Linked DNA regions of Homo sapiens: regions 1 and 2 are each reported to be linked to region 3. The links are microRNA targets in miRTarBase. Many come from high-throughput screens and were not tested one by one. Region 3 holds a microRNA gene; each other region holds the end of a gene's coding sequence.

What was found. Region 3 holds the annotated microRNA hsa-miR-1908-5p (CGGCGGGGACGGCGAUUGGUC, at 4,472-4,492, opposite strand). A microRNA usually pairs through its seed, bases 2 to 8, with sites in the 3' UTR of a target mRNA and lowers its output. Matches are read on the target gene's strand: a 7mer-m8 pairs with bases 2 to 8, a 7mer-A1 pairs with bases 2 to 7 and ends in A, and an 8mer does both.
Region 1: miRTarBase lists INO80E as a target of hsa-miR-1908-5p. Seed matches in the 3' UTR shown: 7mer-m8 at 8,659-8,665.
Region 2: miRTarBase lists NKIRAS2 as a target of hsa-miR-1908-5p. Seed matches in the 3' UTR shown: 8mer at 7,810-7,817 and 7mer-A1 at 6,672-6,678.

Annotation. Positions count from the first base shown.
Region 1 is chr16:30,004,628-30,014,135 of GRCh38, reverse strand. INO80E (INO80 complex subunit E) reads right to left here. Exons shown (of 7, transcript NM_173618.3): 7 at 8,345-8,915. The coding sequence ends at 8,694. DOC2A (double C2 domain alpha) reads left to right here and starts at 3,109. Exons shown (of 11, transcript NM_003586.3): 1 at 3,109-3,233; 2 at 3,901-4,175; 3 at 4,579-4,658; 4 at 4,860-4,934; 5 at 5,031-5,140; 6 at 6,837-6,963; 7 at 7,046-7,105; 8 at 7,188-7,351; 9 at 7,459-7,540; 10 at 7,627-7,723; 11 at 7,805-8,622. The coding sequence starts at 3,914. The coding sequence ends at 7,950. RefSeq lists a silencer at 3,143-3,202.
Region 2 is chr17:42,022,925-42,031,824 of GRCh38, reverse strand. NKIRAS2 (NFKB inhibitor interacting Ras like 2) reads right to left here. Exons shown (of 4, transcript NM_017595.6): 4 at 6,184-8,171. The coding sequence ends at 7,932. ZNF385C (zinc finger protein 385C) reads left to right here. Exons shown (of 9, transcript NM_001392013.1): 5 at 41-206; 6 at 2,752-3,042; 7 at 3,579-3,775; 8 at 4,097-4,207; 9 at 4,692-6,249. The coding sequence ends at 4,928. Among named protein-coding and RNA genes, the nearest start is that of NKIRAS2, 7.3 kb to the right of the region's middle. RefSeq lists enhancers at 2,280-3,068, 6,839-6,888.
Region 3 is chr11:61,810,738-61,820,287 of GRCh38, forward strand. It overlaps MIR1908 (microRNA 1908), which reads right to left and starts at 4,503; the gene lies at 4,424-4,503. FADS1 (fatty acid desaturase 1) reads right to left here and starts at 6,266. Exons shown (of 12, transcript NM_013402.7): 1 at 5,818-6,266; 2 at 2,506-2,616; 3 at 1,734-1,931; 4 at 237-338; 5 at 14-142. The coding sequence starts at 6,192. It overlaps LOC124902680 (a long non-coding RNA gene), which reads left to right and starts at 7,283. Exons shown (of 2, transcript XR_007062696.1): 1 at 7,283-9,550. It also overlaps a transcript of FADS2 not described here. RefSeq lists silencers at 4,348-4,467, 5,988-6,187, 6,528-6,627 and an enhancer at 4,570-5,467.

The DNA of each region.
Region 1 (9,508 bases), not on the chromosome of region 3:
TGCACCCTATTTCACTGCATGGAATTACATCATGACTGATTTAACTGGTCCCCTGCTTCTGGGTATCTCAGTTGTTTCCAGTCTTTTGGAACGTGCTACATTTAAGAATTTTGAACTTCATGGCCAGGCGCGGTGGCTCACAGCTGTAATCCCAGCACTTTGGGAGACCGAAGCAGGCGGATCATGAGGTCAGGAGTTCAAGACCAGCGGGGCTAAGATGGTGAAACACCGTCTCTACTAAAAATACAAAAACTTAGCCAAGTGTGGGGCGTGCGCCCCTGTAATCCCAGCTACTTGGGAGGCTGAGGCAGGAGAATTGCTTGAACCCAGGAGGCAGAGGTTGCGGTGAGCCAAGATCGCACCATTGCACTCCAGCCTGGGCAACAAGAGTGAAAGTCTGTCTCAAAAAAAAAAAAAGAAAAAAAGAATTTGAACTTCTATTATTTGGCTTATGGGTTGGCATATCTGTAAGATAAAATCCTAAAAGTGGAATTTCTGGGTCTAAGGATTTTTTTTTTTTTTTTTTTTTTTTGAGACAGGGTCTCACTCTGTTACCCAGGCTGGAGTGCAGTGGAGTGATTATAGCTTACTGCAGCCTTGACCTTCTGGGCTCAAGAGATCCTCCCACCATCACGAGGTCAGGAGATCGAGACCATCTTGGCTAAGAAGGTGAAACCCCATCTCTATTAAAAATACAAAAAAATTAGTCAGGCGTGGAGGCGGGCACCTGTAGTCCCAGCTACCCGGGAGGCTGAGGCAGGAGAATGGCATGAACCTGGGAGGTGGAGCTTGCAGTGAGCCGAGATCACGCCACTGCACTCCAGCCTGGGCGACAGAGCGAGACTCCATCTCAAAAAAAAAAAAAAGAAAAGAAAAAAAAAGAAGAGAGATCCTCCCACCTCAGCCTCTTGAGTAGCTGGGACCACAGGCACACACCACTATGCCTGGATTTTTTTTTTTTTTTTTTTTTTTTTTTTGTAGAGACAGGGCCTCACCATGTTGCCCAGGCTGGTCTTGAACTTCTGAGCTCAAGGGATCAGTCCGTCTCAGCTTCCCCCCAGCCCAGACACTTTGGCTTTGCCCATTTTATGGGTAATAAGTGATATCTCAGGGTTTTTTGTTTGTTTGTTTGTTTGTTTGTTTTGAGACTGAGTTTTGCTCTTACAGCCCAGGCTGGAGTGCAGTGGCACGATCTCAGCTCACTGCAACCTCCGCCTCCCGGGTTCAAGCGATCCTCCTGCCTCAGCCTCCCAAGACACATACCACCACGCCCGGCATTTTTAGCAGAGATGGGGTTTCACCATGTTGGCCAGGCTAGTCTCAAACTCCTGACCTCAGGTGATCCACCCACCTCGGCCTCCCAAAGCGCTGGGATTACAGGCGTGAGCCACTGCGCCCCGCCCCCTCAGTGTTGTTGACTTTACATTTCTCTTACTTTTTTTTTTTTTTTTTTTTAAGAGACTGTGTCTCACTGTGTTGCCCAGGCTGGCTTCACTCAAGCGATCCTCTCGCCGCAGTCCCTGGAGTAGCTAGGATTACAGGCACCCGCCACCACTCTCGGCCCCATTTCTCTTATTTAAAAAAAAAAAAATTGCCGTGAAATACGCATATCGAAATGTACCATCTTCACCATTTTTAAGGGTAAGATTAGGTGGTGTTAGGTATGTTCAGTTGTCGTGCAACCAGATTGCTGTTTTAAATAACAGCACTTAGAGATGCCGACTTCGTGCCAGGCCCAGTTTGGGACATTAGGGACTCCCAGATGAATCAGCCGCTCCAGTGGAACTCCCTGCTGGTGGGGGAGGCACTGGCGAAGCGGTGCTGAGCCGAGTCCTGACGGCGCTGGAGCTGAGGGGCAGTGCGGGATGCCCCAGGAAGGCTCCTAGGAAGAGGGGACCCACGGTGACTTCCTAAGGAAGCGCGGTTCCCAGGTAGAGGAGCGCATGTGAGCCAAGATCCCTAGGCCTGAGCCGTCTAGGTGTGTCCCAGGAACTGCAGGAAACGGTTGGGTGAGTCAGTGGTGGGCAGCGAGGGTGATAAGCCCCTTCGTGTCTTCGGGATGGTAAGTTTGGGGCACAGGTGAGTGAAGACCGAAGGCCAGGGGTGGACTGACACTCCGTGGCAGGCGCAGGGCCGGGCAGGGGGGCGGCTTGGGGGTGGCAAGGTTTGGGTGAGAAATGGCAGCCCATGGGGAACTACCGCAGGGCTCTGAGACCTTCAGAGCCAAGCCCCGACGCCCCTTCCCACCTGCGGGGCAGAACTGGGGATGGCAGGGGGGAGGGTGGTTCCCAAAGGAGATACCATCCCTGGTAAGGGGACATGGGCCCCTGGGAGTTGGGTTGGGCCACAAGGAGAGAGGCCTGAACGGCCAAAGGGAGGGGGCGTGGGGGAAGCCGCAGCATCAGACCTCTGCCTCCTCCCTCAGATCGTGAGGCTCCCCAGCCTGGCTCGGGAGACCCCGAGATCCCCGGCCGGTGACAGCAGGCGACCCCCTGCTCCTGTCAACCTGTGGGTCCCTACGGACGTGGGGAAGGGAGGAGGGAGGCCCCAGCTCCCTGCGGGGGAGGGGCGTGAAGACGCGCGGGGGTGGGGGGAGATGAGCCGGCGTCGCCATGACAACGAGGCCGGTGGTCCGGCCTTGGGGACCCGGGAGGGAGGGAGGCGCCGTGGCCGCGCGCGCGGGCGGGGGCGGGGGGCCAGGTCTCCCAGGAGTAGTTGGGGAACACCCGGCGATTCTGGCGGCTGCTTCCTGGTGGCGCAGGGAGCCCGCGTGTTTGCGAGTGCGTGTGTGTGCGAAGTTCTCCGGGTAAGTGTGCCAGCGCGCGCCTGGGTGTGTGCAAGGGTGTGAGCGTGCACACGTGGGCACGGGCGTGTGCGCGCGGGGGTGCCCGGTTGGATGTGTGCACACGAGTGTGTGCCGGTCCGCGTGCCCCTGCGTGAGTGTGCGCGCGCGAGCACACGTGTGTGTGCGCGCTCGCGTGCGCTCCCGAGCGGGCCCCGGGTGGGAGTCCGAGATCCCGCCCCCTCCCCAGCCCCAGCGCCCCTCCCCGTCCCCCGCCGCCGCGCCGGCTGCATCCTCGCCTCCACCTCGCTCACCCCCTCCTCCCCGCACTTTCTCGGCGCTCCCTCCCTCTCGGCTCGCACAGCTCGACTCCGCGCTCTCCTCGCCGGCCGCCGCCGCCCAGCCTGCGCCCGCCGTCCCCCCAGTGCCTGGGCACCTGTTGGAGGCAGAGGCAGGTGCAGGGGGCTGGGCAGGCCGGGGGCGTGAGGGTGCGGGGAAGCGTGCCAGCCTGTGTGCGCTACGGGGGTGTTCGGCTCTCCTGCGGCTGCAATTTCTGGCTCCCCTGAGGAGCCAGAGGTGGCATCTGAGGCTGGGGTCTCCACCGTGGGCTGTGGTGAGCGAGCGGGGGAACCAGGCAGGCAGACAGGTCCTGGGGCTGAATGAGGGGACAGTGGGCAGTTGGAGCCTAGAGGGGTGGGTGACACCCTGACTAGACCAGCGCCTGGTGCAGAGGAGGACAGAGCCTCCGAGAAACAGAGGCGGGGCCCTGCAGGGCCCCTTGGGGGACAGGCAGGCTCAGGAGCAGAGGGGAGCCCCGGAGGAGAGGAAGGAGCTGGCAAGATGATACAGGGACAACCTAGAAGTGGGTGGGTGAGGACGGGGTGGTGCAACCTCGACTTCTGCAAGGAGTGGGTTGGCAGCCCAGCCCCTGTGGAGTCAGCTTGGGGTCTGCAGGGCCCAGGCCTCCCACCTGCCACCGGCTGGCACACACCACCCTCTCCCTCGACACCTAGGAAGGGAGGCCAGTGAGGGCCCCACAGACCGAGGAGGCCGTCGCCTGGCCCTCAGCCAGGATGGCTAGGTATGATGGGCTCACTGGCTCACACGCCCTCTCCTAGCCAGGGGTGCTGCATGAGGGGCCGCAGGGGCGATCGCATGACCATCAACATCCAGGAGCACATGGCCATCAACGTGTGCCCCGGGCCCATCCGGCCCATCCGCCAGATCTCTGACTACTTCCCCCGGGGACCAGGACCTGAAGGGGGCGGCGGGGGCGGCGGGGAGGCCCCCGCCCATCTGGTCCCCCTGGCTCTGGCCCCCCCTGCAGCCCTCCTTGGGGCCACCACGCCTGAGGATGGTGCGGAGGTGGACAGCTATGACTCGGATGATGCCAGTGAGTCTGGGGGCTTGGAGGCCCCATGTGCTGGTGGGGGTCTCCAGGCTTGCCGTGGTGGGGGGAGAGGGGGATGGGCCCTGCTGGCTGTGCATGTAGGTAGGGGAGGAGGGCAGTGGGGGGGTGGCAGGGACGGCCACCACAGCTGCAGTCAGCGTGGAGATTACAGCTTCAGCAAGGCTCAATATTCAGTATTTCTGCTGAGACACTCCACCACCCACACAGCCCCAGTTGCGGCCGAGCCAGGGACCCAGACGCACACACGCATGGGCCCACTCAGCCTCTTGCACTCACACTCGCGGGCTGGCAAGAGAGAGAGACACACAGAGCCAGTGCCCACCTGCTGGCCTCTCGCACACACCTGTCTCCATACCGACCCATGCTGCCTTTCCTCTCTCTCCAGCCGCCCTAGGCACGCTGGAGTTTGACCTTCTCTACGACCGGGCCTCCTGCACTCTGCACTGTAGCATCCTCAGGGCCAAGGTGGGCACTCCCTGCCACCCAAGCCCGGGCCCGGTTTGCGTGCAGCCCCCAGAGGGGGCCCATTCCTCCTTCCCTTCCCAGGCCTGCTCCTTCGTCCTGCCCTTGCCCCCTCCTTCTGGGCTCCTCCAGGGTCCAGCTCTACAAGAGGGATGGAGAGAGGTGCCGGGAGCCTCTAGCCCTCTCCCCTGCCCTCCTCTCCAGGGCCTCAAGCCCATGGATTTCAATGGCCTCGCCGACCCCTACGTCAAGCTGCACTTGCTGCCTGGAGCCTGTAAGGTAACAGCCTCCTCTCGCCCCGCCCGGCCCAGCCCATGACTCCAGCCTGTGGGGCTGGAGGACAGGTATTGAGAACCTTTCATCCCCACATCCCAGGCCAATAAGCTAAAAACGAAGACTCAGAGGAACACACTGAATCCCGTGTGGAATGAGGACCTGACTTACAGCGGGATCACAGATGACGACATCACGCACAAGGTGCTCAGGTGAGGGCCCCCCTCCCCACCACCCAGCAGCAGCTCGGGGACAGCTGACATTGTAACCGCTGGTTGGTTGATCTATGTCCCATTAAGCCCGTACCTCTCTGATGCTCAAGAACCATCAGCGGCTCCCTAGCCCCTTTGGCAGCAGGCCAAAATTCTTCCCTGCCATTCCTGCCCCTCAATATCTCCTGCCTGCCAGGTGTGGTGGCTCACACCTGTAATCCCAGCACTTTGGGAGGCCGAGGTGGGCGGATCACTTGAGGTCAGGAGTTCAAGACCAGCCTGGCCAACTTGGTGAAACCCCCGTCTCTACTAAAAATACAAAAATTAGCCGGGCGTGGTGGCATGTACCTGTAAATCCCAGCTACTCGAGAGGCTGAGGCAGGAGGATCACTTGAACCCGGGAGGCAGAGGTTGCAGTGAGCCGAGATCGCACCACTGCACTCCAGCCTGGGTGATGGAGACTCCATCTCAAAAACAAAACAAAAGTATCTTCTGCCCCTCAAACAGAGGACTCCCTTCTTCCAACTGGCCAGTTCCACAACTCCTGAACTTTTCCTGTTGTTTTCTATCTGGAAAGCTCCTTCCTGCCAGCCTAAATTCCGCTCATCTGAGGTTCAGTCCAAGCTCTGCCCCCTCCCAAAAACGTTCCTGGGTTGCCGAGACCCCTTCTCAGAGCCCTTGGCTTAAGCCAGACCTCTGCAGCTTTGGTCTGCCCCTTCCGTGCCTTGAGTTCCCCTAAAATCTCTTAAGGAGTGAAGTCTTCAGGGACAGGGAACTTGCTCCGTCATCCTAGGAGATGGAGATGTAGGGAGAGTACTCCCTCAAGTCAGGTGGCGGGCAGCGAAACCCAGGCTCTGGAGAGACCTCTGCCTTTGTGCTTGGATTTGCAGCTGGGACCTTCCCTGATGGTCAGGGCTGTGCAGCAGAGAGGCCACCTTGGTTTCAGCTATTCGGGTGGAATGGAGGGGAGGCCAGAGGCCAAAACCAGAATGAGACCAAAAAATGAGCGCTCACCAGGGCCCAGCCCAGGCTTAGCATTTTCACATTTCTTTCTTTCCCTTGACTATCTCCATTTACAGATGGGAATTGAGGCATAGGGTGATCAAGTGACTTGCCCAAGGTCACACAGGTGGCTCAGAAGTGGCAGGGCTGGGATCTGCCCATCCTCCATGCCACAGATGCCCAGCCTGGTAGTGGGTCACTGCGGAGGCAGGGCAGGGACTGCAGGAGGACAGGTGGCTGGAAAGCAATCATTTCTTAGTGAGTCCCTGCGGGGCTGGCTCTCTGCTGCATGCAGGAAAAGGACGGGGGTTCCCGAGGAGGCGTGGGGTACTGGTCTGGCTGCCCAAGGCTCCAAGGCCCTTCTAGCTCTCACGGCCTGTGTCTATGGCCACATCCACCGTGGTGTTCGGCTCCTGCCCCCAGGCCCTGAATGGAGGCAGTGAGCAGCGTGCTCCAAGATTTCTGAGGGCTTCCCACAATGGCTGAGCATGTCCTGATGGACCAGGGACAGCCGGGTGGCTGCAGAGGGAGGGACAGAGGAATGGGCAAATCTGCTTGTCCTTCTCAAGTGCCAGCCTGTCTTCCAGATGAGACGTAGTGTTTAGGGCAGAGCTGGGCTGGTCCAAGGCCCTTCCTACACCCCGGAACGGGGCTCAGGTACCCCAGGGGCCCTGACACTGCAGTTCCCGACCAGGATCGCCGTCTGTGATGAGGACAAGCTGAGTCACAATGAGTTTATTGGGGAGATCCGCGTGCCCCTCCGCCGCCTCAAGCCTTCGCAGAAGAAGCATTTTAACATCTGCCTCGAGCGCCAGGTCCCGGTCTGTGTGGGGGCTGCAGGGGCGCCAGGGGAGGGGGCCCTGGGGAGGCCAGGCTTCCAGAACCTTCTCTTTGCCCCCTCAGCTGGCGTCCCCCTCTTCCATGTCAGCGGCGCTGAGGGGCATCTCCTGTTATCTGAAGGAGGTGAGGCACCTCATGGGGATGGGGATGCATGTGGGTGGGAGGCTGCAGGGGCCCAGGCTGACCCTGAGTCTGTGCCCCGCAGTTGGAGCAGGCGGAGCAGGGGCAGGGGCTGCTGGAGGAGCGTGGCCGCATCCTGCTGAGTCTCAGCTACAGCTCGCGGCGCCGGGGACTGCTGGTAGGCATCTTGCGCTGCGCCCATCTGGCTGCCATGGACGTCAACGGTTACTCGGACCCCTACGTCAAGACGTGAGCCCTTGCTCTGACCCTCTCCTCCCCAGGGAGCCTGCCCTGGCCTGAGTTGGGCCTGGCCTGTCCCTCACCCCTCAGTTCGTCTCCCTCCACCCCACCCCCAGGTACCTGAGGCCCGATGTGGACAAGAAATCCAAGCATAAGACGTGTGTGAAGAAGAAGACTCTCAACCCAGAATTTAACGAGGTACCCAGGAGGGGACGGGACATGGAGGGAGGCCAGGGAGGGGCTGGGGAGCTGGCTCACGAACGGGTGGCCGGCCTTGTCCCTAGGAGTTTTTCTACGAGATAGAGCTCTCCACTCTGGCCACCAAGACCCTGGAAGTCACCGTCTGGGACTATGACATTGGCAAATCCAATGACTTCATTGGTGAGGGAGGAGCTGGCTGCGGGTGTTGAGGGCGGGCAAGTGGCAGGGAGGTGGCCCTGACCCTGCCCACCTGCTCCCCAGGTGGCGTGTCCCTGGGGCCAGGTGCCCGAGGCGAGGCTCGGAAGCACTGGAGTGACTGCCTGCAGCAGCCGGACGCAGCCCTGGAGCGCTGGCACACCCTGACCAGTGAGCTGCCCCCTGCGGCCGGGGCTCTGTCCTCAGCCTGAGTGGACAGCAGTGTCCCGGCACAGGCCCATCGAGCCGGGTCCAGTACCCAACCTTCGCACGAGTGTGTTGCACGTTTACACAGGGTGGGCTGCCCCCACCCTGCACTACCTATTTTTGTGAGTCTCCGTGACCCGGGTCTGTCTGCTCATGAGGGGCTGCGGAGTTCTATATTCACATATGCAAACCTCCTGCCTGACTCGCTAGTCCCTGCAAATATGCAAACCCCCCATCATCTGCACACCCGGGCAGTGCTCAGAGCCCGGCCCCAGGCCCCCGCGCTCCTCACTCCTGCCTCTCCACGCTGCCCCGTCCCTCTCCCCCAACAGGGAGGAGGTCGGATTAGGGGAGGTTCAGAGGAGGAGAATGTCTCAAAAAAAAAGGACAAAAAACAAACCCAGAGCCACTCCTTTAATACAGAAACTTCATTGAAAAAACCTAGCCCTGTACAGCTGCCCTTTTAAAGAGGTGGCCATTGCAGGGTCTCTGCCTCCCCAGCAGGTGGCAGATGCTCCCGGCCACTCGTTTAAATAACTGTCCCCTGGAGGGGGCCGGGGTTTGAAGGCAGGGCCCCTGCCACCCTCCTGGGGGACACCCGTGCATGTTTACGCCTTTTCTGGTTGTGTCAGTGGCCGGAGCATGGCAGCTGGGCATCAATAAACACCTCCGAGGAAGCTGGACTCGTGTGTGCTGGCACGGGGAGGGCGCCGGGCGGGGCCGTGGTGGGCATGGCGTGATGTCACGGTCACTCCGGGATGTCGATCACCAGGTCATCGTCTCCATCCAAGGCATCGTCCCCGCTACCTGCATCGCTGAACATCTGCCGAGGGACCGTGCTCAGGATCGTGGGGGGGGGCATCTTAGGGGGTGGGAGGGGGGTCAGGGTTGTCCCGACCCCAGCCCCAGAACCCCGGCCAGGGAAGGTCAGCGGCCCTCCCACAGGGCAGTCGGGGGGTCCCACCGCCATCTGCAGCAGGGGGAAGAAACACAGGGGGACTAGTCAGGGAGGCACTGGGGCCTCAGGAGACTAGGCTTTGCCCCCCAGGGCAGCTCTGGGGAGGGGGAAGAGGCCCTGGGCACAGCTGGGCCAACCCATGCTGCACTCAGGGCCTGCCCCCCTCAGCCCCTCGAGAGCCTCAAACCAGCAAGTGCCTGGGGGTGGTGATAGAGGTGAGATGAGGGGATGGGGGTGTCTCACAGGAAACCGGGAGGGAAAGGCCCGGGCACCTGCCCTCTCCAGGGAGGCGCCTGGGCTGCCCTGAGACAGGGGTTAAGCCAGAGGCGGAGTCGGCCTGGAGTGCTTGCCTGCCTGCCGGCCCCGGAGGTGCCACCTGCCACCAGCTTCCTCTCCCTACTCCTCCTCTCCCTCTTCTGCGGCACTCACTGGTTCGGTGGAGGGTATTGCAGGCTGCCTGAGCCAGGAGCCCCAGCGGCTTATCTGCCCCCAAGAAGCTTGTATTATGTCTTGGATGGGCCCCTCCTCGGGGTCCCGGCAGCTGTGGCCTAGGCCCAGCCCTCCTCTTAGCTCACCTGGGCTGCGGTCCCAGCCTCCTAACTGGA
Region 2 (8,900 bases), not on the chromosome of region 3:
TCAGCCAGTGAATGGTGACCTCTTGCCCTCCCCTCCCCAGAACCAGGCCGAGGCACATTATAAAGGCCACAAACACGCCAGAAAACTCAAGGCTGTCGAGGCTGCCAAGAGCAAGCAGAGGCCACACACCCAGGCCCAGGATGGGGCTGTAGTGTCCCCAATCCCAACGCTGGCCAGTGGAGCCCCTGGAGAGCCACAGAGTAAAGGTCAGTCCTGAGCTCTTCTCTTTCCCACGTCTCCACTCCAAATCTGGTTTCCGACAAGGGGTTGAGAGATTTCTGCTTATTCTTTTTGCTTGTGTTGGAGTATTCCATACAGACAGGCAAAGGCACACAAGTGTACCACGCCATGAATTTTCCTAAGCTGAACACACCCAGATCAGGAAACACGTTACCAGCACCTCAGAAGCTTGTCTTGCACCTCCTCCTGGTCATTACCTTGAAGTATTCATTTCCAAGGGCTGCCTTCACAAATGACTTCATTTGTGAAGTTAGGAATGGTGGCTCACATGTTGTGATGGTTAACACTTTGGGAGGCTGAGGCGGGAGGATTGCTTTAAGCCTGGAGTTTGAGACCAGTCTGGGAAACATGGTGTGACCCTGTCTCTACAAAAAATTTATTTGCCAGGCATGATGATGCACACCTGTAGTCCCAGCTACTCAGGAGGCTGAAGCAGGAGGATCTGCTTAAGCCCAGGAGGTCGAGGCTGCAGTGAGCTATGGGTGACAGAGCAAAACCTTGTCTCTAACCTCCCCTGCCCACCCCCACCCCCAAAAAAAGAGACTACAACCTGGGTGACTGAAAACAACAAAAATTTATTTTCACACAGCTCTGGAGGCCAGAAGTCTGAAATCAAGGCGTTGACAGCATTGGTTCCTTCTTGGGGGCTTAGAGGAGAAAGTGTCCCATGCTTCTCTTCTGGCCTTTGGTGGCTGCCAGTATTCCTTGGCACTCCTTGGCTTATAGACGCATCACTCCAATCTCCACCTCCATCTCCACATTCTCCCTTGTGTGTCCCTGTGTTTCCACAAGCTCTTTTTATAAGGGTACCAGTCACTAGATCAATCCCACCCGAACCCAGCATGACCTCATCTTAACTAATTTTATCTTCAAAGACCCTGTTTCCAAATAAGGTCACATTCTGAGGTTCCAGATAGATGTGAATTTTGGGGGAGACACTATTCAACTAACTACAACCCCTCTGATGGTAAATACGATCCTGACTTTTCTCAGCATAGATCAGCTTTACCTATTTTTGGTGAAACATAGAGTGTGCAGGGGTTTTTTTGTATCTGTTTTGTTTTGTGGGTTTTTTTTGTTTTGTTTGTTTGTTTTTTGAGACAGAGTCTCGCTCTGTCTCCCAGGCTGGAGCACAGCGGTGCAATCTTGGCTCACTGCAACCTCTGCTTCCTGGGTTCAAGCCATTCTCCTACCTCAGCCTTCCAAGTAGCTGGGACTACAGGTACCTGCCACCACGTCCAGCTAATTTTTGTATTTTTAGTAGAAACGGGGTTTCACCATATTGGCCAGGCTGGTCTCGAACTCCTGACCTTGTGATCCACCCACCTCGGCCTCCCAAAGTGCTGGGATTACAGGCGTGAGCCACCCTGCCTGGCCGGTATCTAGTTTTTATTCATCTCTCACAAACATTCATCAACATTCATTATATCTGTAAGATTCATCCATGTTTTTGCGTGTAGCTGTAGTTTGTTCTCTTTCATTGCTGTGTAGTACTCCACCGTGGATCATACCACTATTTTTTTTTAATTTAAATTCTTAAAAGCTCTTTTTTTTTTTGAGACAGGGTCTGGCTCTGTCACCCAGGCTGGAGTGCAGTGGTGTGACCTAGGCTCATCCACCTCCCTGGCTCTCAAGCGATTCTCCTGCCTCAGCCTCCCAAGTAGTTGGAACTATAGGCATGTGCCACCATGCCTGGCTAATTTTTGTATTTTTAGTACAGATGGTGTTTCGCTGTGTCACCCAGTCTGGTCTCGAAGTCCTGGACTCAAGTGATCTGCTAACCTTGGCCTCCCAAAGTGTTGGGATCACAGGCGTGAGCCACTGCGTCTGGCCCATACCACTGTGTTTTTTTTGTTTGTTTGTTTGTTTTTGAGATGGCGTTTCACTCTGTCGCCCAGGCTGGAGTGCAGTGGTGTGATCTCAGTTCACTGTAACCTCCACCTTGCAGGTTCAAGCGATTCTCCTGCCTCAGCCTCCCGAGTAGCTGGGATTATAGGCATGTGCCACCACGCCTAATTCTGTATTTTTAGTAGAGATAGGGTTTCACCATGTTGGCCAGGCCAGTCTCGAACTCCTGACCTTAGGTGATCCACCTGCCTCGGCCTCCCAAAGTGCTCGGATTACAGACATGAGCCACCGTATCCAGCCCGCACCATTGTTTTTTAAAAATCTGCTCTCCTGTTGGTGGACATGTGGGTAGTTTCAGTTTTATGATATTATGAATAGTGTTCTCTGAACATTCTAGTACATCTTTTTTGGTGATCTCTGTTTAAGTTAGCAAATAAGGATATGAGGGCTGTGAGGGCTTTCTGAGACCACTGTGTCCAACTTAATGATTTCAGATGGGGAAACTGAGGCCCAAGTCTGCCCAGTGAGTTGGTAGAAAAGTGGGGCCTGGAATTCAGTGCTGGTCATCCACCAGGGGCCCTCCAGGCCACCTCCATGGTCAGAGCTGAAGATCGTGGTCTGCAGCGTCATCTTGGGTCTCACACTCTTCCATCTCTGCAGCAGTTCCTGCAGCCCCTCCTCTTGGGCCTCCACTCCAGCCACCACCAACTCCAGACCCTACATGCAGGGAGCCAGCCCACTCAGAGCTCTTGGATGCTGCCTCCTCATCCTCTTCTTCCTCCTGCCCACCTTGCTCCCCAGAGCCTGGGAGAGAGGCACCGGGGCCTGAGCCAGCGGCAGCTGCCGTGGGAAGCAGCATGAGTGGGGAAGGCAGGAGTGAGAAGGGGCACCTCTACTGCCCCACGTGTAAGGTGACAGTGAACTCGGCCTCCCAGCTTCAGGCTCACAACACAGGTCAGTAGTCCCAGGAGCTGGAGCCCAGGGAAAGGGTGGGACAGAAGCTAAGCCTCGCCAGATGAGGGCAGGCTTGAGTTCCTGGGTGCTTCGCTCAAGGGTTGGATGGCGGAGGCTTTGTGCTTGTGTGTTACTGAACGGACGTTTCTGGGTCCTCCCATTACTCCTTGGGGAAGGAGAATTGGGAAGAGAAGTCTGAGGCAGCAAGAACTGAAGGTCGCTAAATCTCTGAAGGGTCACTCCACAGGAGACAGGAGACATCTGCCTCTCTCCTTAGATTACACCCAGAAGGAAAGGACTGAGATCAAAGCAAAGGGGAAGGCAGCTATTTGTAGTGCAGAAAGGCCTTTCATAGGAGGGGCTGGCATGAAAGGACAGAAGCTGGGAGGGGAAACCACGTGTGGCTGGAGGGCGATGTGTGCACAGAGCAGCCGTGAGGCTTACAGGGAGAGCCAAATTGCATGAGTGTGGAGGGGGTCTCTGTGGCCCCTGCAACCCCTTCCTGCTGCTGAGAGACTGCCTTCTTCCCTCTCCAGGAGCCAAGCACCGGTGGATGATGGAAGGTCAGCGAGGGGCTCCCCGGAGGAGCCGGGGCCGCCCGGTGTCCAGGGGAGGTGCCGGACACAAAGCCAAGAGAGTCACAGGGGGCCGGGGCGGCCGGCAGGGGCCCAGCCCTGCCTTCCACTGTGCTCTCTGTCAGCTCCAGGTCAATTCAGAGACCCAACTGAAGCAGGTGGGAGAAGTGAGGCTGTGACTGGGGTTGGAGCCAGGGGAGGGGGTTGGGGGGCAGGGCAGCAGAGGGAGGGACCCTGAAGAGAGCAGGCAGGGCACAGCAGAGCAGGCTGGAGAAGCGAGGCCAGCAGGCCAGTGGGCCAATTAAGGGCAAAGGCCAAGACTCACCTCCCCTTCCCAGGGCCTACCCCAGGGTGAGGACCCAGTCTGTGTGCTTTGGATGTATGAGCTGTGGATAGAGGAAGGGGAAGAGTCGAGGATGATGGTCTTGGGGTCCTTGGGCTTTGTCATCTTGTTCCCAGTCTGTCTGTCTGTCCATTAGCACATGAGCAGCAGGAGGCACAAAGACCGCCTGGCCGGGAAGACCCCCAAGCCCTCCAGCCAGCACAGCAAGCTGCAGAAGCACGCAGCGCTGGCTGTGAGTATCCTCAAGGTATCTGTCTCCAGGCAACAGAGCTGGGACTGGGTCAGGAGGGGAGAGGGTGGGCTGGGAGGGCCAGATGGGGGGGCTGCGGTGGGGCAGGAAAAGAGGCCACCCTGCAATGAGGCTGCTGGGCAGTGACAGAGCTAGGCCTGGGAACTGGGATCTGCGCAGAGGAATTTCCGGGGAGGTGGGTTGGGATAGTCATCTTAGGGGCAAGAGTGAGGGGTGGGCGTGCATCTCCTAGAGACCATCTCTATCCCGTAAATCCTCCTCCCTTCTCCCATGCTGAGACTTTCCTCCCTCTGGACAGGAAGACAGGTGGTGGAGAAAGCCCTTCGGAATGAATGTTTGGGGGTGGGAAGGGAGGAGGATTTAGGTTTGGAACTCTAAAAGGCACGCTTTCCCTGCAGCAAAAAGCTTGAGGATGGGCCCCAGGGAGGGGGTGGGGTTTTCTGGGGTGGAGACTGTGTCCATTCCTTTCTTTTCCGTGTAGTCTAAACTGGCCTTGCAGAAGCAACTCACCAAGACGTTGGCAGCCCGCTTCCTGCCCAGCCCGCTCCCCACCGCAGCCACTGCCATCTGTGCTCTGCCAGGGCCCCTGGCCCTCCGCCCTGCCCCTACAGCAGCCACTACCCTCTTCCCGGCTCCCATCCTGGGCCCAGCTCTGTTTCGCACCCCAGCAGGAGCTGTCCGCCCTGCCACAGGACCTATCGTCCTTGCCCCTTATTAGCCCTCATGGGGAGGCCAGAGCTGATTTCCCAATAGCCACTCCTTGTCTCCTCCTGTCCTGAGACACCTTGGTTTCCTACATGCCACAGGGACTGTGAACAGCTTCAGGGGTCCTGCCCGATCCAGAAAGAGCTGGGCTAGTTTTAAGGGCAGCTGCCTTCCAAGGACTGTCCCCACCCTCCTTTCGCAGGCCTTCCAGGGTTAATCCTAGGCTTGCCTGCATTTCCCACCCTGACAGACCCCAAAGATCTATGCAAAATCTCAGCCCCAGCCATGTGGTGCTCTCACTTTCCTCCACCCAAGACCCACATGGCCAGACTCTAGGAATCTTAGCTTCTACAAGCCATCCTCTCCTAGCCAGGGGACGACTCTCTGACCTCTATTCCTAGGCTTTGGGGCTTCACTGGAGATAGGGATGGGGTCTCTAGCTGCAGCAGGCTCAAGGCTGTCAGGACAAGGTGACCATGGGAGTGTGACAGAGGACCATGGAGGAGAAAGGGGGACCCAAAAGTCCTTCGATCAGCAGTGCTAAGGTGGGGCAGAGCCAAGGAGGTAGTGGGGCTGGTTCTGAAAGCTTTTGGGGGCTTCATCTGCTCTGAAGGGGTGGGACTAAGAGAGGAGGTGATGTTCTGGTTGGGCCCAGGGTTTTGTTTTAATCTTAAGTCTTCTGGGCATTCATGGGCCCAGTCTTTTTTTCTGTCTGAGAGTATCATTCTGTTGCCCAGGTTAGAGTGCAGTGGTGCAATCTTGGCTCACTGCATGCAGCCTCTGCCTCCCTGGTTCAAGTGATACTTGCTGATAAGCCCAGTCTTAATATTGAGGGAGTAACTCATCCCTCAGAAGCTCTTCTTCTTAGCCTTTCTCTGACTTCCTGAACCCCAACTCTTGGAGGGCGGGTGTGGGTCTCCCTCAGACTATGGACTCAGCTAACACCGAACCCCCCGCAGAGCTCCCAAAGGAAGAGCTTTCCCCTACAGCTTCCCACTCCAAACTGGTCCTAGCACTAAATTCAGCTTTCCCTTCTCCCAACCAGCCCCTGCCACTGTGAAGCTGAGTGTTGGGAGGCAGTCTCACATGCACTGGCAAGACCCATTTTCATGCTGTCAATGTCAATGTCACAAACTCCTTTCCACTGCAGCACTGCCCCCTCCCCACCCCACAATATGGGACCCTGCCAGTATCCCCCTGTATCTTTTTTTTGTTTTTTAAAGACATTTCCAATGGGAGAACCAGAAAAAGGGGGAGGGGAGGGAAACTTTTTGATAACAATTGTGGTTTTATTGTGTCCAACCAATGCATCAATAAATGAACTTGAAGCCCAAGCCTGTGTGTGTCCTAATTCCACTCACCCAGCCCCGGGCACCTGCCCCACTCACCTCTGGCTTTGAGAAGGGGCGTGTGTCGGTGGTTGCCTGGCTGCAGTGTCTCACCTAGGCTAGGTGTGCACCTTAGAAGCACAAAGCGGGCACAGTTGTGGGTAATAAGCTTACTCTGCAGGCCGCTGGGTGTGTGCCCACCCTCCTGAGCCCCGAAAGAGGACCTGTCAGCTCCTGAGAGGCTGCTACGGGTTTGCCTTGTTCTGTTCAGGCATCTGAGGTAAGAAGGAGGGGCCAGAGGAGCACCTTGTCCAGCCTTCACCATGAGAGCGGGCATATAAATATAAATACAGGTAACTTATAAATAGAAGTCCAGCTCTGAGCTGAAAACCACAGGCAGGATAAAGAGCAGCCTCCAAGAGCGAGGCTGGCGGGCTGGGCACTGAGCGGCCACTCTGGTGACTGACAGCAGGTAGTGCACTCCTGCCCCCTGGTGGCTGGAGGGAGCGGCAGATCCCAGCCTCCAGGGCTGGTTGGCATAGCACCTTAAAGAGGGAGAAGCCATTGGCTTTACGAAATCAAGAGAACTGGAAAGGATCTAGGAGATCATCTAAGCAACTCTGGTCATCTTACAGATGAGAAACTGATGCCCAGAGAGGGGAAAGGTCTTGCTGGGTCACAAAGTGGGCTGGTGACTCATAGCCCAGTTATTCTATTCCATCTCAACCAGTGAGGCCCATCTGCTCCCTGAGCAGGAAGAGGAAGTAAAACAATTGGTAGGGGTGGGGAATTTTTTTTTTTTTTCTTCGAGATGGAGTCTTGCTCTGTTGACCAGGCTGGAGTGCAGTGGCACGATCTCGGCTCACTGCAGCCTCCGCCTTCTGAGTTCAAGCAATTCTCCTGCCTCAGCCTCCCCGGGTAGCTGGGATTACAGGCATGTGCCACTACGCCCGGCTAACTTTTGTATTTTTGGCAGAGATGGGGTTTCACAATGTTGGCCAGGCTGGTCGTGAACTCCTGACCTCAAGTAATCGACCCGCCTTGGCCTCCCAAAGTGCTGGGATTACAGGGGTGAGCCACTGAGCCCAGCCAGGGGTGGGGGATTTAAAACAGAAAACTACACTCCCAGGAGGCCAACTTCTTCCAGCCAAGAAAAGGACAGGAGAAAGGTCAGGGTGAGGGATGAGGAGACGCCTAATGCCAGTATAGGAGCATATTTGTGTGTGCACAACTAAATGCATACACACAATACCTGGACACCCTTTTTCTGGAGTCCAGGCTGGTGCCATAAGTGTGTGTGTGTCGCTGATGGGAAGCCCAGAGGGTGGGGCCCCTACCTATAATAGGAACTCAGACCCAAGAAGGGACACTGCTGCGTGGTGACTCTGCTTCCTGTCTGGGGCAGCTGGAAGGGACAGTGACCCACAACTGCCCCAGGAGACAGTGGAGCAGATCCTCTAAAAGCTGGGATGGGGAGTAGGCTGGGAGGGCTGAGGAAGGGGATGTCAACCAAGAGTATTTGCACTTCCCAGAGGTGAGAGGGAGCAAAGTGGCTGGGGCGTGGCCTGGCGGGGAGCTCCCTGGCTGACTGGGAAAGACAGCTTGTCCTCTACTTTGCCCTCAACACATCTACCAGAGCCCCAGACACTGAAATGGGGCTGGGATCGTGAAAGAGGAACGGCAGCTCTTCAGCCATCCAAGGAGCCGCTGCCCTTGTTCTTCCGGCTGAGGGGGAAGGCAGACTTGCTCTGGGGTTGCGTCATCTTGCTGGCCAAGTAGACAAAGGGCTCCAGGAGGGAGCGCCGGTCCGCCACTGACACCTCCCACAGCTTCACCTTCTCTGACTTGGCCCAGTGCTGAGCCACATCTGGGTCTACACGCCGCTGCTCCTGTAAGTCACACTTGTTGCCAAGGACCACGATGGTGACCTGGGGAAGAGGGACAGAGCATAGGCCTGTGAATGTACCATAGAACCAGGAATGGACATGGGGGCTGGCAACCACCTAGGAGTTCTATGAGAGGAAAGCTCAATGGCTGATATCTCATCTCTTTCTAGATTCCATACCACTCATTGTGGGGAAGGAGATGGTTGCTTTTTTTCTCTTTCCTCTGTTCAAATTCTGGCCTCCATCTAGCCCTCCTTTTAGGAGTTCTATCACCAGCTCTGTATTGCCCATACATGCTCATTATTAGCAGTCAGTTTCTGGCTCAACAACAGGTGAGGAAGCACTCCCAGAACCCTGCAGCTTACTGTGGGATTCTGGAGAACAGAAGGGCCTTCGTGGCCAGATGCAGTGGCTTACGCCTGTAATCCCAACACTTTGGGAGGCTGAGGCAGGTGGACTGCTTGAGTCCAGGAGTTTGAGACCAGCCTGAGCAACATGACAAAACCCCATCTCTACTAAAAATACAAAACTTAGCCAGGTGTGGTGGCATGCACCTGTAGTCTTAGCAGGGGGCTGAGGCAGGAGGACCACCTAAGCCTTGGGAGGTTGAGGCTGCAGTGAGCTGTGATCATGCCACTGCACTCCAGCCTGGGTGGCAGAGTGAGACCCTGTCTCAAACAAACAAACAAACAAACAAACAAAAGAAGGGCTTTCATAGCTAAAAGCACAGAACCATCAGGAAGGACAACTATGTGGGGACTTCATACAACT
Region 3 (9,550 bases):
TACCTCCACGCACCTCCACAGAGAGGATCTTCCCCAAGGCAAAGAAGAAGGGATGCATGTTGATGTCTGGGTCTTTGCGGAAGCAGTTGGGCTTGGCATGGTGCTGGAAGTGCATGTGGTTCCACCAACTGGCGGGGGCCCCCTACAGAAAAGCAGGGACACGAGTATGAAAAGCTTCCCCCAAGGCAGCCCTTCATTGCCTGGAGTTTTAGAGAGCTCCTCCCCATCCCACTGACCTTCAGGTGGCCAATCACAAAATGATGTAGCAGATGGTTCCACTTTGAGGTGCTGAAGACCGACAGGTGCCCAAAGTCATGCTGCAGCCAGCCAGCCTGGGCCTAGGTGAGAAGAGTCAACACTGAGAGCAGCCCACCAGCCCCAGTGTCGCCTTCACTGACCTCGATGCCTCCTTCAGCCTCTCCCACTTCCTTCATCTGCCAAGGCCTGTGATGCACCTCAGGAGTCAGGAAACATGGGTCCTAGTTCTGCCTCTGCCACTGACTCACACGTGAGTTGGGGCAAATCACCATCCCTTCTCTGTTCTTCTGTTTCGCCAGCTCCGAAGCTCATGACTTTTTTTTTTTGAGACAGTTTTGTTCTTGTTGCCCAGGCTGGAGTGCAATGGTGCGGTTTCAGATCACTGCAACCTCCGCCTCCTGGGTTCAAGTAATTCTCCTGCCTCAGCCTCCCAAGTAGCTGGGATTACAGGTGCCCGCCACCAAGCCTGGCTGATTTTTTTGTATTTTTAGTAAGAGTCGAGGTTTCACCATGTTAGCCAGGCTGGTCTCGAACTCCTGACCTCAGGTGATCTGCCCACCTTGGCCTCCCAAACTGCTGGGATAACAGGCGTGAGCCACCATACCTGGCCTGTTTTGAGAGTGTCGCTCTGTTGCCCAGGCTGGAGTGCAATGGTGCCAACTCGGCTCACTGCAACCTTCGCTTCCCAGGTTCAAGCAATTCTCCTGCCTCAGCCTCCCATGTAGCTGGGATTACAGGCACCCACCACCACTCCCAGCTAACTGTTGTATTTTAATAGAGACGGGGTTTCACCATGTTGGCCAGGTGGTCTTGAACTCCTCACCTCAAATGATCTGCCCATCTTGGCCTCCCAAGGTACTGGTATTACAGGCGTGAGCCACTGTGCCTGGCCTTTTTGTATTTTTAGTAGAGGTTTCACCACGTTGGCCAGGCTGGTCTTGAACTGAGATCAAGTGATCCGGCCACCTTGGCCTCCCAAAGTGCTAGGATTACAGACATGAGTCACCACACCTGGCCTGAAGCTCATGACTTATGATGGACTGACATCTAGAATACAGAAAGGACTGAAACATGAGCAGAAGGCTTGCCAAATGGGTCCTGACAGTCAAGAATTAGCGCTCAATCATTATTAACATATTGGGCAATGTCAGTGGTGGGGAGGGAGCCAAGCTTTGCTAAGAAACCAGAAACTTGGCTCCTGGCACAGGTGGGCTGTGGCAGAGAACAAACCGCATAGGAAGAAGAGAACCCTTGGAGAAGCAGCTAAAAAGGCAGTGAGAGAAATGAAGATGTCCATGTGGCTAAAGAGCAGACAGGTCAAGACAGCAGAATGCATGTTCCTGCACTCACTCCTGCATACCTTCAGATCTGCCCTGCTTGGAGGGCAGGCACTCTTGGCCTTCCTCAAACACCCAAGGAGCTTTCCCCAGGGATGCTGAGCATTGCTGTGCACTTGACAAGCCAAAGGCTCTCACCTGAACTGCACTGAGCAGCACCGCACAGAGGAGGAAGGGCAAAAAGGACGTCCCAAAGACCCAAAGGGTGAGCCAGGCTGCACCATCCAGCAGCAAGATGTGCAGCAGGTACAGCAGGAAGAAGACATGGTTGGCCTTCATGAGCCCCATCCGCTCCACTGTGGCCCGCAGCTCCCGGAACTCATCTGTCAGCTCTTTCTGCAGAAGAGGAAGAGGAGCTGTTATTCTTCTCATCTGCACCCCAATGCTACTGGAGACAAGGGCCCTCTCAGGCTCAAGGACCTCCCACTGAGGTAGCTGTGGGAAGTCCACAGTCCTAGGCAAAGATACCACGACAATGAGGATGACAGGAGGAGGTGCCATGGGATAGTGCCTAAGAGTTCAGGGGACTAAGTCCTTGCTCTGCCATTTACTAACTGTGTGATCCTTGGCTGTGTTGCTTAACCTCCCTGAGCCTGTTATCTCATCTGTAAATGTGTAAGAGTTATGAGTTTATGCTTGGTGCATAGTAAGTGCTCATATGATAACAATGATGATAACAATGATGGCAGCCATGGTAGTGGCAGCCTTGGGGGAGCCATAGGTTGCAAAGCCATGCTCCCTTGGGCCTGTGACCTCATGACTATGCAAGAGAAGCAGGGACCTCAAGACTCCCCAGAGCTACTACTGACTGTGATTACTATGACTGTGATCCCATCTAGACTCTCCTTCCACCCCCTCTCTGTCCCCCTCAACAACCAATAGTTGCGACATAGCAAACACAGGGTCTTACATTCTTGGTGGGCTCAAAGCTGGGCTGCTCTGGAGACAGTTCTCCAATCAGGAGAGAGTTCATATACTTCTTCACAAGGCCCTTGTTGATGTGGAAGGCCACAAAGGGATCCTGCAAGTGCCGGGAGAAGATGAAAGGTGAGGGAGCCAGCCCCCTGGACTCCGGCAGTGTTCGCACCAAAGGCCATCCTCCTGCCCGCCAGAAGGCTGTACCCAAGTTGAAGTGAGAGGTGAAGCCAGATGGACTTCCTGGGTCGAGTGCAGACTTGGAGAACTTTTCTGTAGCTAGAGGTTTGTAAAATGCACCAATCCGTGCTCTTTAGCTAGCTAGAGGTAAAATGGACCAATCAGCACCCTGTAAAATGGACCAATCAGTGCTCTATAAAATGGACAAATCAGCAGGACATGGGCAGGGACAAATAAGGGAATAAAAGCTGCTCCCGGCCGGGCGCGGTGGCTCACGCCTGTAATCCCAGCACTTTGGGAGGCCAAGGCGGGTGGATCACGAGGTCAGGAGATCGAGACCATCCTGGCTAACACAGTGAAACCCCGTCTCTACTAAAAATACAAAAAATTAGCCGGGCGAGGTAGCGGGCGCCTGTAGTCCCAGCTACTCGGGAGGCTGAGGCAGGAGAATGGCGTGAACCCCGGGGGAGGGCGGAGCCTGCAGTGAGCCGAGATCGCGCCACTGCACTCCAGCCTGGGCGACAGGGAGACTCCGTCTCAAAAAAAAAAAAAAAAAAAAAGGCTGCTCCCCCTCACACCCCCCAACGTCCAGCAGCGGCAACCTGCTCGGGTACCCTTCCACGCTGTGGAAGCTTTGTTCTTTGCTCTTCACAATAAATCTTGCTGCTGCTCACTCTTTGGGTCCACGCCACCTGTAAGAGCTGTAACACTCACCGCGAAGGTTCATGGCTTCATTCTTGACGTCAGCGAGACCACGAGCCCACCTGAAGGAACCAACTCCTGACACAGAAGCACAGGCCATCTCCCTAGGCCCAGCTGCCTTTTGAGGGTGCTCCCAGGTGTCCACAGTTTAAGATCACCGAGTATCTGCTCTAGTTAGAAGGATGCATCAAGGAATGGGAAGCATTGGCTGAGGGGAACCACTAAGAAACACCTGCCTGGGCTGGCCTTTCCCCTGGGTGTGTCCACAGACAGCTTTTGCCCAAGAATTTCAGTATAGGTGAGAAACAGGAGAGATGGGTGGGGCTGTGTCGGGCGTTGGTTCCTTCCGGCGGGTATGGTCTCACTGACTTCAAGAATGGAGCCGTGGACCTTCCCGCTGTTATAGCTCTTAAAGGAATAACACTCTTTGCAGACCCAAAGAATGAGCAGCAGCAAGGTTTAGTGTGACGAGCAAAAGAACAATGCTTCCACAGCCTGTAAGGGAACTGGAGCGGGTTGCAGCAGCTGGCTGGGGTGGCCAGCTTTTATTGTCTTAGTTGTCCCTGCCCACGTCCTGCTGATTGGCTCATTTTACAAACCTCTAGCTAGCTACAGAGCGCCAATTGGTGCGTTTTTACAGAGCACTGATTGGTGCATTTTACAAACCTCTAGATACAGAAAAGTTCTCTAGGTCCCCATTCGACCCATCAACTCCAGCTGGCTTCACCTCTCAGGGCTATGAGACTTCCGTCCCTTCTTGCGGGTCTTTCAATAAGTCCCTTTCCTCTCTTAGCTAGGGTTCTCCAAAAACCACGAAGAGGAAGACTTCCCTACGTCCGAACTGGGGCACTTCTGCGTTTCTTCCCTTTCCCTCCACCGTTGTTCTGGGTAGGGCTCCACATTTCCCTAAGCACTCTGGCCACCCCCTGCCCCAAGGCAGCTACTTTGGGTTGTGCAAGGTAAGGTCCATGGCGATAAGATTCACGTTGGCAGGTCCGGCAGCCCCGGGCCCTGTAAGTGATGCGGCGTGTGGGGCGGGGGCCGGGGCGGAGCCGGCGGCCGGTGGCACCACACATACGGACCAATCGCCGTCCCCGCCGCGGCATTCCCGGCCCCAAATCACACTGCGGGAAGCTCCAGCGTTGGTGCCTGTTTCGTCTGCGCATGCGCCGGGACACGCCTGCGCCCTTGGCCGCAGTCAGGGCTCCCGAGTGGTCACTCTGGTTGACCCGCGCAAGCTCTGGCCTCGCCCACTAGGCTGGTCGCGTCAGAGGGTGGGGCGGGTCTTCGCCCCGCAGCGTCTAAGCTCTGCTGCGACGTTATGGGAACCTGGTGACCCGCGGCACACTCTGGGACGCCAGGGTAGTGGATAGGGACAGTGGAGGGCATCACGCTGCAGGGCACGGGATCAGAGGGGGATGCAAGGGGAGGGGACGCCATTCTGGCCGCCAAGGGGGAAACGCGGTGAAGGGAACGCCCCGACTTTCGAGTCCCTAGGACTGAGTCCCCAGGACTCCAACCCAGCAGAGAGGCGCCGGGGCCTTAGCTCTGAGGGCTGTGGTCTAGAAAGGGAAGCAGCAGGCCTGGGGCTGGGGCGCGCGCCGACCCCGCAGTGAGACCAAGGGAAGAAGGGACAGGACCCCGCGAAGGGCCTACCGCCCCAGAGCGTAAACAGCGGTCCGCTCCGCGGAATAGCTGAAGACCTCGCTGGCCTGCGGCTCAGTGGCCTCCCCGGCGATTCGAGAACAGCTCTGGGGGTCCTCGCTAAGTGTATGCCATTCCCAATCCCTTATGTACGCCAGCGGCCGCTTGCCCTCCCCGGCCAGCGCTGTCCCTTCCGCGTCCTCCAGTCTTCACACGACGCAGGGGTCCCCAAGGCAGCGGTCTCCCCAAGCTTCCCGTTTCAGCCCCATCCTCGAGAATGGGCTCCTTTCCTGCTCCCTCTCCGCTCCTGCTGGCGAGTGGAGACCGGCACCTAGGTCCAGACGCGGCTGCGCTGCCTCTCCTAGCCATCGAGACAGGATGTGACTCCCTCCCCTGGCCACTGACCCCCTCCCTCCCCAGGCGGCCTGCATCCTTGCTCTCCTCCCTCCTAGCCTACCCAGCTCGGGGTTCTGTCCCCGCCCAGAGACCTGAGGCTCGGGGCTGCAGATGGAATGCACGGCAGGGAGGCGGGACCCTTTGTTTGTGTGTGCGTGTTGTTGGCCTCCATCCCCACTCCCCAGACTCCACTTCTCCAGGCCTCTCTCCCGCCTTTTCATCCCGCATCCGCAGGACACCCAATCACCGGGCAACAGGTATGATCAGGCGCCTCCGGGCTTTCCTCCGAATTAGTCGGTGTTTGGCTCGGAGTGCGTAACTCTGTCTCCCCTGCACTCAGCCTCCGGTCCCGCCCTCTCCTGTGCCCCCGCCTGGCTGCGCTCACCGTGGCATCCTGCCCGGCGTAGTGGCTGATGACCCGGGAGCCCCCTGGATGCCGGCGGGTGAACTCGCTGATGTTGTACACCTTACGGTCGATCACTAGCCACCGCTCCTCGCACCCTGAGCGCTGGGCCACCTCGTCCCAGGTGAAGTAGCGCGGGGTAGGTCCCTGAGCCGCGGTCTCGGCGGCCACCGGGTCGGGGGCCATAGCTGGCCTGGCGACGCCGCGCGCCGGGCCAGCAGGGGCTGTCAGGCGCGTGCTCGGGGTCCGCGGGCTCCAGGAGTGGATTTGCTGGCGCGCGCCCAGAGCCAGCCGCCTGCGCGCCGGGTTTTCAGCACCGCAGGGCAGACCGGCGGGCCTCGCAGCGCGCGTTCCCATTGGCCGAGCCTCGTGGCGCGGGGAGCGAGATCCCGTCCCCCGGTGGGTCTTGGGCAACTCACAGCTGGGCTGCCAACACGCGCCCCCTCGCGGGCTCCCTAAAGGCGTCGCCGCCGGATTCGACTTCCTGACGTCAGGCGGGCATCGCGGCGTTGGCTCCCAGGGGGCGCCGCGGTAGGAACAGCGGTTCTAGTGCAGGCCCTGGGTGCGGGGCCGCGCTGCAGGAGTGAATGGACTGAGGGGCCAGGGCTGCGGGGTGGCCGCAGGAAGGGTGGGCGGGGCCGGGGTTGAGGTTTTTCCGTGCACGAGGCTGCCCGGGCGGTCGCGGACATCATCTTTAGGCTGTGGATGCCTTGGCCGGGGTCTCCAGACGCTGACCCTCCAGGGTTGGAAACTACTGCCTGCTTGCCACGTCGTGCCGCCAATTGTGCTGCCCGAAGTAGCAGCCTGAGAGCCCTTGAAAGTTGCAGTTATCTTGTGAACAGCATATTTACGGTCTCTTGGGCTTGGTGGTGGTTGGGGGAGGGCTGTTAATGCTTTAATTTGTTCAATGAAACATTTAAAATGCCCCACAATTTTTATAACCCTGTTTGCCTCTTTTTGTTTTTATTTTTATTGTATTTTGGAAAAATTCACTGGGATCCTTGAGTGATGATCCTAGCGTCTCCTGACCCTTAGGTGTTTCACCTGAAAAGCCTGGGTCTTCAAGCTGAGGCATTTCTGTTCTAGCCTGGAGGCGCCTAGGAGCCCTGGGAGACTTTTTAAGCAGAGAGATTTGGCATTTAGATCTCTGGGTTTTAGAGGAGTGGGAACGCACCTAAAAGTGGGGTTGCCAGTTACAAAGCTGTTGCAGTCCTGAAGAGACCCAGAGTTTAGGTCCAAAATTTTATTTATTCAACAAACACTTTATAAAGCACTTACTGTGTGCCAGGCACTGTTCTTAGCGTTTTGCAAACCTTAACTCATTTAATTCTCCTAACAACCCTATGAGGTTGGAACAATTAACCTAATTTACAGTGAAGAAACTGAGCCCGGGGGAGGTTATTTTGTCACACAGCTTGTAAGTGGAGGGCTGAGATTTGACCCTGGCCTGTGCTCTGAACTCTCAGGCTCTGCCATATTTCTCATTACACTGGTATTTGGGCACTTCAAAGGGAAAGGAAACATAACTGTCCCAAGCACTGAGCTAGATTCTGAGCACGTAGGAGTCAGGAGAGGGTGATACAGAATAGACTAGGTGAAATATGGCTAGATTTCTGGTAGAAAAGGATTAATTCATTCCATCCAAATTCTTCATTTTATAGATAAGAAAATTGAGGTTCGAAATGGGGAAGGGGCTTACCAAGTTCCCATAGGGAAGTTTAGATGTCCTGACTTCCAGGTAAGATGCCAGGCTATTGGACCCTGCTCAGGAATGATGGTCCACACAGCTGCACCTCTGTACAGCCAATATTCCTTTTTTAAAAACCTTGCCCAACAACTTGGCAGTGTCTAATGCGAGCTACAAAACATTTTCTATTCTTTGATCAAGCAGTTTCACTCTTGGTAAAGTAGGGGAGACTGTGCAAAGATGCAGAAATAGCCAATTTAATAGCAAAAACTGGAAATAAACCCGAGTCCTGACAATAAGAAAATCGCCAAGCTTATTGGGATCTGTTAACACAATGAAGAATTAAAGAATGATTTTAAATGGCTAGAATGTGAACTATATTGATAGATATAGAATCCTTCCCCGTGAAATAAGCAGAACCCAAAGTAGTATGGGTTCGCTGATTACAACTATATAAGAAATTCATGGGTATTAAATAACAGAAGAGAGGTCCTTTACATAAACCATTTTTCCTATGTGACTGTGCAGTGGGATAAAAGCTCTCATACTGCTGGTAGAAGTGTAAGTTGATTAAACTGGAAAAAATAGTTTGACAACTTATATAGAAATTTAAGATTTTTTTTTTTTTTGAGATGGAGTCTCGCTCTGTCGCCCAGGCTGGAGTGCAGTGGCCTGATCTCAGCTTGCTGCAAGCTCCACCTCCCAGGTTCATGGCATTCTCCTGCCTTAGCCTCCCAAGTAGCTGGGACTACAGGTGCCCGCCACCACGCCCAGCTAATTTTGTTTTTGTATTTTTAGTAGAGTTGGGGTTTCACCATGTTAGCCAGGATGGCTTTGATCTCCTGACCTCGTGATCTGCCCGCCTCGGCCTCCCAAAGTGCTGGGATTACAGGCGTGAGCCACCGCACCCGGCCAGAATTTAGGAATGTTTTGAATACTGAAGAGATGAAAAAAAATAGAAAAATAAAAATGTTCCCAATAATTCCATGTTTAGGAATATAGCCTAAGGAAATGTTCTTAGAAAAATATTTATAGGTCAGGCGGGGTGCCTCACGCCTATAATCCTAGCACTTTGGGAGGTCGAGGCAGGCGGATTGCCTGAGCTCAGGAGTTCAAGACCAGCCTGAACAAAAGAAATCGGCTGGGCGTGGCGGCGTGCGCCTGTAGTCCCAGCTACTCGGGAGGCTGAGGCAGGAGAATTGCTTGAATCCGGGAGGCAGAGGTTGCAGTGAGCCGAGATTGTGCCACTGCACTCCAGCCTGGGCAACAAAGCAAGATTCTATATCCACACACAAAAAAAGAAAACTATTTATAAACAAAAAATATTCATTAAAGCAGTATCTATGATAGCGGGAAATGGAAACACTCTAAATGCCCATCAGTGAAATATTTTGCAGACATTGAAAATAATGTCATCTTTCCTTTAATACAGAATCAAGGAAAAATGTTTTATGTAAATCTTTTATTTTATTATACTTTAAGTTTTAAGGTACATATGCACAACATGGAGGTTTGTTACATATGTATACATGTGCCATGTTGGTGTGCTGCACCCATTAACTCGTCATTTAGCATTAGGTATATCTCCTAATGCTATCCCTCCCCCCTCCCCCGAATCAAGGAAAATTAAATAATATGATGTAAGTTTGGCTACAGAGATAACTGTTCTATAAAAAGACTAGGTTGGGCGCGGTGGCTCACACCTGTAATCCCAGCACTTTGGGAGGCAGAGGCAGGTGGACCACCTGAGGCCAGGAGCTCGAGACCCACCTGGCCAACATGGTGAAACTCTGTCTCTACTAAAATACAAAAATTAGTGCCTGTAATCCCAGCTACTTGGGAGGCTGAGTCAGGAGAATCACCTGGGCAACATGGTGAGACTGCACCTCAGAAAAAACCAAAAAACCCATACCACTTGTAAGATAATTCCTTGATCAACCCCACCTACCTAGAACCATTCATTAAGTGTTTTATTTAACATTTGTGGGGTGTCTCCTCTTTGTATTCCCAGCACCTACTTTGGTAAGG